Linked DNA regions of Homo sapiens. The protein of the gene in region 2 interacts with the protein of the main gene of each other region in a pairwise test. Each region holds a gene or a part of one and is shown on either strand. Other genes may lie near its edges. The genes, in order: ANXA7 and DYNC1I1.

Region 1 (3,820 bases), on a different chromosome or scaffold from region 2:
TATGAATGCTTGTGCGTTGATAGAGGGAACATACTTTAAAAGCCTTTTGCCAGTGAGCATTCTTTATTCCTTTTAATATTTAGCCACCTTGCAATATTGCCATCTTTAAGAGGGACAACACAGAAACCAGTGTACAGATTTCTTTGTAGTTACTATTGAGATTTATTCCTGTAAATCTGGCTTTTGTAAGGAATTAGAGATTTAACCTCTAAGGTTGTATGGAATCAGAAACCAATTCGAGGCTCTGTGGCTGGGATGGGGATGAAACTGTACATTTGAGCTTATCACTATCCTGCCCATTATGCCCCACCATCAAGTGAAGATGTGCAGGACTGCCATAGAGGTGCTACAGGAAGTGAGGACTATGTGAGGAGACCCAGAAATGCAGAAAAATGTTTTAGGGTTCCCAGTAATAACTGTGATTAGCACCTTCTTTATTTTGATTCCCCAGGTGTGCTGGAGAATTGACAGAAAATACTCCAAATAGGGTATTTGGAATGGCATTAGAAACACACTTAGGGCCAGACATTGTGCCTCACACCTGTAATTCCAGCACTTTTGGAGGCCAAGGCAGGAGGATTGCTTGAGGCCAGGAGTTTGAAGCCAGCTTGGGTACCATAGCAAGAAACCATCTCTATAAAAAATATTTTTAAAAATTAGCCGAACATGGTGGTATGTGCCTGTAGTGCCAGCTATTCAGGAAGTTCAGTGGGAGGATCACTTGAGCCCAGGAGATTGAGGCTGCAGTGAACTGTGATCGCACCACTGCATTCCAGCCTGGGCAATAGAGTGAGATCCTGTCCTTAAAAAAAAGAAAAGAAAAAAAGAAAAGAAGCACACTTAGATGATGAAGGTGTATTTGAAAGAGATTATGTAAATGACTAGCATGCTGATTCAATATCAAGAGTTATTGCCTATTGTGCTAGTGCACAAGATTGGACCATCTGGAGGGATCTAAAGGAGAGGAGGGGCTCTTAAGAGCCAAGGGAGGGGCTGGGTGTGGTGGTTCATGTCTGTAATCCCAGTACTTTGGGAGGCTGAGGCGGGTGGATCACCTGAGGTCAGGAGTTTGAGACCAGCCTGACCAACATGGTGAAACTCCATCTCTACTAAATACAAAAAATTAGCCAGGAGTGGTGGCACCTGTAATCCCAGCTACCTGGGAGGCTGAGGCAGCAGAATCGCTTGAACCCGGGAGGCAGAGGTTGCAGTGAGCTGAGATTGTGCCATTGCACTCCAGCCTGGGTAACAAGAGCAAAACTCCATCTAAAAAAAAAAAAAGGGAGGTAGCTGTGGAAAGGATAGTGGATATGGAAATGAGAAAGCAAAGTAAATGGGTTGAAGGAAATTGAATTTACCTAAATCAGAGTAACAGGAGGGCAGTAGGTTAGGATTTAAAAGAAACAAGAAGGAAAACAGACAATGCTAAAAAATGGCTATTAAGATTTTACATGAGGTGCTGAGTCTCTCTTTATGCAGAGTTCAAGGCCCAGCCCTACCTTTTCCAGGGCATGAGTAGAGGAGTAACTTCCTGAGAAAGTGTGTGTGAATCCAAAGGCAATAATCTGGGAAATTTTTTGTGAGTACCTTTTCCTGTGTTATATTCAGTCGCCCATGTAGAATGTGCCTCTACGTATTCCTTGTGCCAGTTGCTCAGAAGACAGTTCTTCAGCTTCAAGGAGGATTTTTCCATCTTATTCCAAAGATGGTCCCTGAGACTCTAAAAGGCAGCCTTTTCTTGTTTGGGTTTGTCTTTCTGTTTTTGAGAGAAACCAACTGCTCATTAAGCTTAAACTCTTCCTTCCTCCTTCCTTTCTTCCTATTCCAGGGAAGAGTGTGGTATACAAATAGGCACAGTCTAACAGAACATGAGTTATTTGTAGCTGCTTCTGTAAAGCTTATGTGTCATTTTTATGCGTGTATTTATGGTAAATACTTACATATTAAGATTATAATTCGATGGCTGAGTGTGGTGGTGTGAGCTTATAGTCCCAGCTACTCTGGAGGCTGAGGTAGGAGGATCACTTGAACCCAGGAGTTTGAGGCTATGATCATGTCTGCAAATAGCCATTGCACCCCAGCCTGGGCAACATAGTGAAATCGTGTCTCTTAAAAAAAAATATTATACTCAGATGAAGAAAAGAAAGTTTATGAAGCCTCCATATTATATCCTCCCTCCCTCCTGCCCTAGAGTTAAATTTCTTGAGGGCAGAGACCCTGTCTCTCCTGTGTCCCTACCGCTTAACACAGTGCCTGACACAAAGAAAGTGCTTAATGTCTCTTAGTCGCATGAATGAATAAAAAGTAGAACTCAGTACAGTGCATATTGATCTTAAATTCCAGCTAAGAGAGCTGTTTCTTCATTTGAGTGGTAGTTAATATCTCCTAGTAGAGATATTTTTGTTTAAACATTTTGGGTTTAATTTAGCTCCCAAAAGCCCTCATTTTTAACATAACCTCATTAAACCGTGATCTTATATTATAAAATCCAGTTGACAGTATAATAAATTACTAGTTATATTTCCATGCATAGAAATGAAGCATATGCATGACAGACATTATGGATTAATCTTTAATAAATTATCTCTTTAGGCCAGGCCCAGTGGCTTACATCTATAATCCCAGCACTTTAGGAGGCTAAGGCAGGAGGATCACTTAAGCCCAGGAGTTAGAGACCAGCACCTGGGCAACATAGTGAGACATGCTGTCTCTACAAAAAATAAAAAAATTAACCAGGCATGGTCGTTTGTGCCTGTAGTCCCAGCTATCTGGGAGGCTGAGGTGGAAGGATCACTTGAGCCTAGGAGGTTGATACTGCACTCCAGCCTGAGTGACAGAGCAAGACCCTATCTCAAAAAAAAAAGAAATAGTCTCTTTAAATCCAAAAGTGAACTAGATTGGAAAAAAAAAATTTAGTAGAACTATTATTTATTTCTTCCAATTCCTGCCTTTCTCTTTTGCAGGGAAATCGTGATGAGAACCAGAGTATAAACCACCAAATGGCTCAGGAAGATGCTCAGCGTCTCTATCAAGCTGGTGAGGGGAGACTAGGGACCGATGAATCTTGCTTTAACATGATCCTTGCCACAAGAAGCTTTCCTCAGCTGAGAGCTACCATGGAGGCTTATTCTAGGGTATGAGCTTTTCTTTTGAAGATTTGGCTTCTGCTGTAAGATACAAAAATATTTAACCCTTTAATTTTGTTTGCAGATGGCTAATCGAGACTTGTTAAGCAGTGTGAGCCGTGAGTTTTCCGGATATGTAGAAAGTGGTTTGAAGACCATCTGTAAGATATTTTTGTGCTTTGCTTTATTTTCTTTTTAAATGAGTGGGAGCTTTGAATAGTTGTTCCCATTAAATGTTGATAATATAGTCCACGTGGAATCTGCTTAGGCAGTAGCTGATCTAATCCTTTGGGGTTTGTTTTTTGTTGTTTGTTTTCTTTATTGGATAAGCCCCCAGAAACAGTCCTGTGTTTTTACATACAATTTCCTATGAATGGTAGTTCTGTGATCAAACAGGGCTGTTTGGGGATTATTTGGCCTTCATCTGTAGGCCTGTCTTGATAACTGTGCCAGAATACCTGATAGTTGTAGCACTTCCTTTAAAGAGAAAGGGAAAGTCCTGAGGAACTCACAGTGTCACCACGAAGCAGTTTGAGTCCTCAAAACAGATATTTCAGGTACTCAGCCCAGTGAGACTCATTTCCTTTTTGAAGTTAACCAGTTTCTGGTGGTCTAATACACAGATGTCTAACAAAGTGAAAGTTTCATTCTCATGGATATTAGGACTAAGGGGAGTATTAGTAACACTTTGGTAT
Region 2 (3,820 bases):
ACTATCTTGTAAAGACAAAAAAATTGACTTAAATTATTTAAACAGGGAAGATTTCAATGAGAAAACTAGAACTTCTAAAGCAGAGTTTCATAATTTCGGCATCATTGACATTTTGGGTCAGATAATTCTTTGTTGTGGAAGCTGTCTTGTGCTTTGTGGCATGTTCAGCAGCAGTCCCAACCTCTACCCACTAGATGCCAGCCCTTTTCCCCAATTGAGATAATAAAAAATGTCTCCAGACATTGTCAAATGTCCCCTGGAGAAGACAATTGCTCCTGGCTAAGAACAACTGATCTAAAAACTTGCTGGGGTCAGGTGCAATGGCTCACACCTGTAATCCCAACACTTAGGAGGCTGAGGCAGAAGGACTGCTGGAAGCCACAAGTTCAAGACCAGCCTGGGCAACACAGCAAGACTCCATCCCTATGAAAAAAAAAATTTTTTAACCAGCTGGTGTGGTGGGACATGCCTGTAGTCCCAGTTACTTGGAAGGATGAGTTGGGAGAACTGCTTGAGCCCAGGAGTTGGAGTTGCAGTGAGTTATGATCATGCCACTGCTCTCCAGCCTAAGCAACAGAGTAAGACCCTGTTTGTAAATAAATAAATAAATAAATAAATAAAACTAAAAAGAAAAGAAAGCACTGGAATTAGCCCATCTTGTACTGAAAATCATTAAATAGAAGAAAGATAAAAGACAGCTATTCCCAGTCACCACTACTTGAGAGCAGAAAATGGGACCAGCCTCTGTGCAGCTCCTTCTGGCCCTACTCACCTCTAATTTGAGTCCCATACACAAAAGGCAATGGGCCTGACTGCCAGTAGCTGTGCCACACTGACCCATAACACACAGCACCTGTGCTAGATAAATGTGCAATCTTCAAACTGGCATTTGCATACCCCTGGCCTCCACAGTGGCTTTCTAAAGAGCCTGCAGGCAAGGGAAAAGTTAATGGCATTAATTTCCAGATCCGCAGCTTTTGCCTGTATGTTTTCCTAAAACTATCTACCGGAGAATGTGCCTGTGGTTGTAGAATTATTCGGGGCCCCTTTTTCCATCTCCATTTTCACAAAATGCCTTCTGCCATATAAGGTTAAAGACAAATATAAACTAAACAAACAAACAAAACCCCAAGAAATCCCAAATTTTACTGTGGTGCTTAACTGCAAGATATAAAAACATCCCTTTGTGAAAAGAGCTTCTTCACATACATTTTAAATTGAAGTTGGTATTTAGATTTTAATTGGATTCAAAGAATGATGTCACGGTTTTATTTTTAACTGTCAAAGTTTACAACATTCTGAAAATCACATTAATTGTGATTCTATAAATTTATGATGAAAAGCATTAGATGTAACCTTAAATGTGTGGAGGTGATGGAGCTGCAGAATTTTTAAAAAATTCTTGAGGGATTATAAAAGAGAAAAAAAAATGTTGGAAGAGCACTGAGTTAAAGCATAATGAAGCACACTGGAACGGTTACCAGGCAGGTCTGTTGATCAAGTACAATCGTCCTCTATAGTGCTTGAGATTCATTATTTTTATTATGAATACCCTCAACTCTGACCGAAATTTCTGCTTTGTGTGTTTGCCACATTGATGGCATTAGCTGTTCTGAACCCCCAAAATGAAACAGTGGGTTGTTCTATGCGATCATAGCAAGAATATAGGTAAGCGGAAAACTGTTAGCGCTTAAATAATAATTTGGAAGCAAGAACAGCTGCTAAAGAGGATTTCAAGACCAGTATGAACTGAAAACTAAAGAGCACGTAAGTCATCTGGTAAGTAGTGCCCCTCCCAGGATTTAGAAGCAAGTCAGTGTTCCGGATCATGACACAGCTGCTGTATCAGGGAAGCCTCAGAGGACAGAACAGCCTTAAAGTAAATTCATCTTTGCAGTGAATAAAGTTTTGATTTACAGTTACCCCTGCAAGATAGTTTTCAGGCTGTGTTAGGTGGGGGCTGCTGTGCATTTGGTACTCGGCAAGACACCTGGCGATGGGGGAAGCAAAAGTGTGGAGTTTCAACTCACCTTAAGTTAAAGCAGGGCTTGCTTTTCTTCTGCCACTCTGGGAGACATACAACTTGTTGTTGTTCCTTTGATAATATTTTAGGCTTTTCCTATCAGTGTGTGAACATATTTCTTGAGGGACTCTTAGTCCTGCCACAATAAAAAGCTACACTAAACAATACTTTTTTTGGTGTCCCACACAGGCAGAGAAACTATGAGCTATGGTAGGAAGAGAAGAAACAGACTTTGGAATCAGGCCCACCTGCATTTCAAATCCAGCCCTTCCACTATCTGGCTCCATATGGCCTTGACCAAGTGACTTAATCCCTCCAAGCATCTCCTTGTTTGTCAAAGAAAGAGAAAAATGTCCACCTTACAGGGATGTTGGGATGATTCAATGAACTAACACATCTATAAAGCACTGATTATGCACAGGGGAGATTCTCAATGAATGACAAGCCAAGCTAGGACTGCCTGCCACGCCTGGAGGCCTGACTCAGTTGCAGGCCTGACTCAGTGTCAGTTGATGTTTGCTATACCTGCCACCTGGACTCCTGGTGAAATGCCACAAAAATGTCCTGATAGCCAAGAACATTTTATTTTTGGCTGCCACTGGTAGGATAGCTTGGCTTTGTCTTCGATACATTTCAGCAGAGTGACCTCTGCTCCTCTCCCCTTTTTTAAACAGCATATGTAAACCAGTGATTCTTCCTGTATTTTTAGTTAGCAATATCCCCATTTTTTCCCTAGAAAACTACATTTATGCACAAATGCATGAAAATTTGCCTCAATTTTAGTGGGTTCAATGACCATCTGAAAACCATTCGTATGCCTCCCTTTTACAGTATCTATGGGTTTTTGTTTAAGAAGGTTCCTCCAACAAAGAATCAAGGATGTTTTATGAATATGTGAGCTCATGAGGATTAGCACCTAGGCAGAGGTATCTATGTTACGATGGAAACTTCACTCTGAGATTCTGGGGCCAGGCCTCACTCAGAGAGGAATCAAGGAACACAAGTCCAGGATATTGATGAAAAGTCTCTGTCAAGAGGAATAATTTTTTTCTTTTTTAAGACAGGGCCTTGCTCTGTCGCCCAGGCTGGACTGCAGTGGTGCAATCTCGTCTCACTGCAACCTCTGCCTCCTGGGCTCAAGTGATTGTCCTGTCTCAGCCTCCCGAGTAGCCTGGGATTACAGGCACGAGCCTCCAGCCTGGTCTCTAACTCCTGGCCTCAAGTGATTGGTCTGCCTTGGCTTCCCAAAGTGCTGAGATTACAGGTGTAAGCTACTGTGCCCAGTCAAGAGGAATAACTTTTACATGGACCTCGTCAAGGGTTTATACATTGCAAAGAAGAAAAATGAGAGTTGAATTAATTTGAGTTAACTCTCAAAACAAAAAAGTCAACTCTAGAAGTTCCTAGTTCCAGCACAGTTCCCAGGAGAATATATGTTCTCACATGCTCTAGGGGATGCAGAAGCCACAAAGATTTCTAGTAAAAGAGATCCCTGATTAAGGTAGCAACTATTTACACAGCATTTGAGATCCACAAAGTATAACAGCTACTTTCATTAAGGAGACAAAAACAATGCCATAATTTATTTTAAGGGGCCATGGGTCTACTTTGAGTGTGCATATATTATTCACAGTTACCAATCAACTGGCAAAAAGTGCGGCTATACTTGTGGCTTTAAGAAAATAACAATGGATCACACTGAAATTGGAGAGCAAACCTGAAAGATACAGACATACACTCGCTTTTTTGTCTCTCACACAGCACAATAGCCAAAATGGATGGGTCCTAGTTTTAGAG

Evidence for each region.
Region 1: the proteins of DYNC1I1 (region 2) and ANXA7 interact in a two-hybrid assay, tested with the Homo sapiens proteins (one large-scale study listed by BioGRID and IntAct).

The regions. Positions count from the first base shown.
Region 1 is NC_000010.11:73,379,345-73,383,164, reverse strand, and holds part of ANXA7 (annexin A7), read left to right. Parts: intron 1-2,963; coding exon 2,964-3,134; intron 3,135-3,210; coding exon 3,211-3,286; intron 3,287-3,820. UniProt on the Homo sapiens protein: Calcium/phospholipid-binding protein which promotes membrane fusion and is involved in exocytosis.
Region 2 is NC_000007.14:95,775,453-95,779,272, reverse strand, and holds part of DYNC1I1 (cytoplasmic dynein 1 intermediate chain 1), read right to left. Parts: intron 1-3,820. UniProt on the Homo sapiens protein: Acts as one of several non-catalytic accessory components of the cytoplasmic dynein 1 complex that are thought to be involved in linking dynein to cargos and to adapter proteins that regulate dynein function.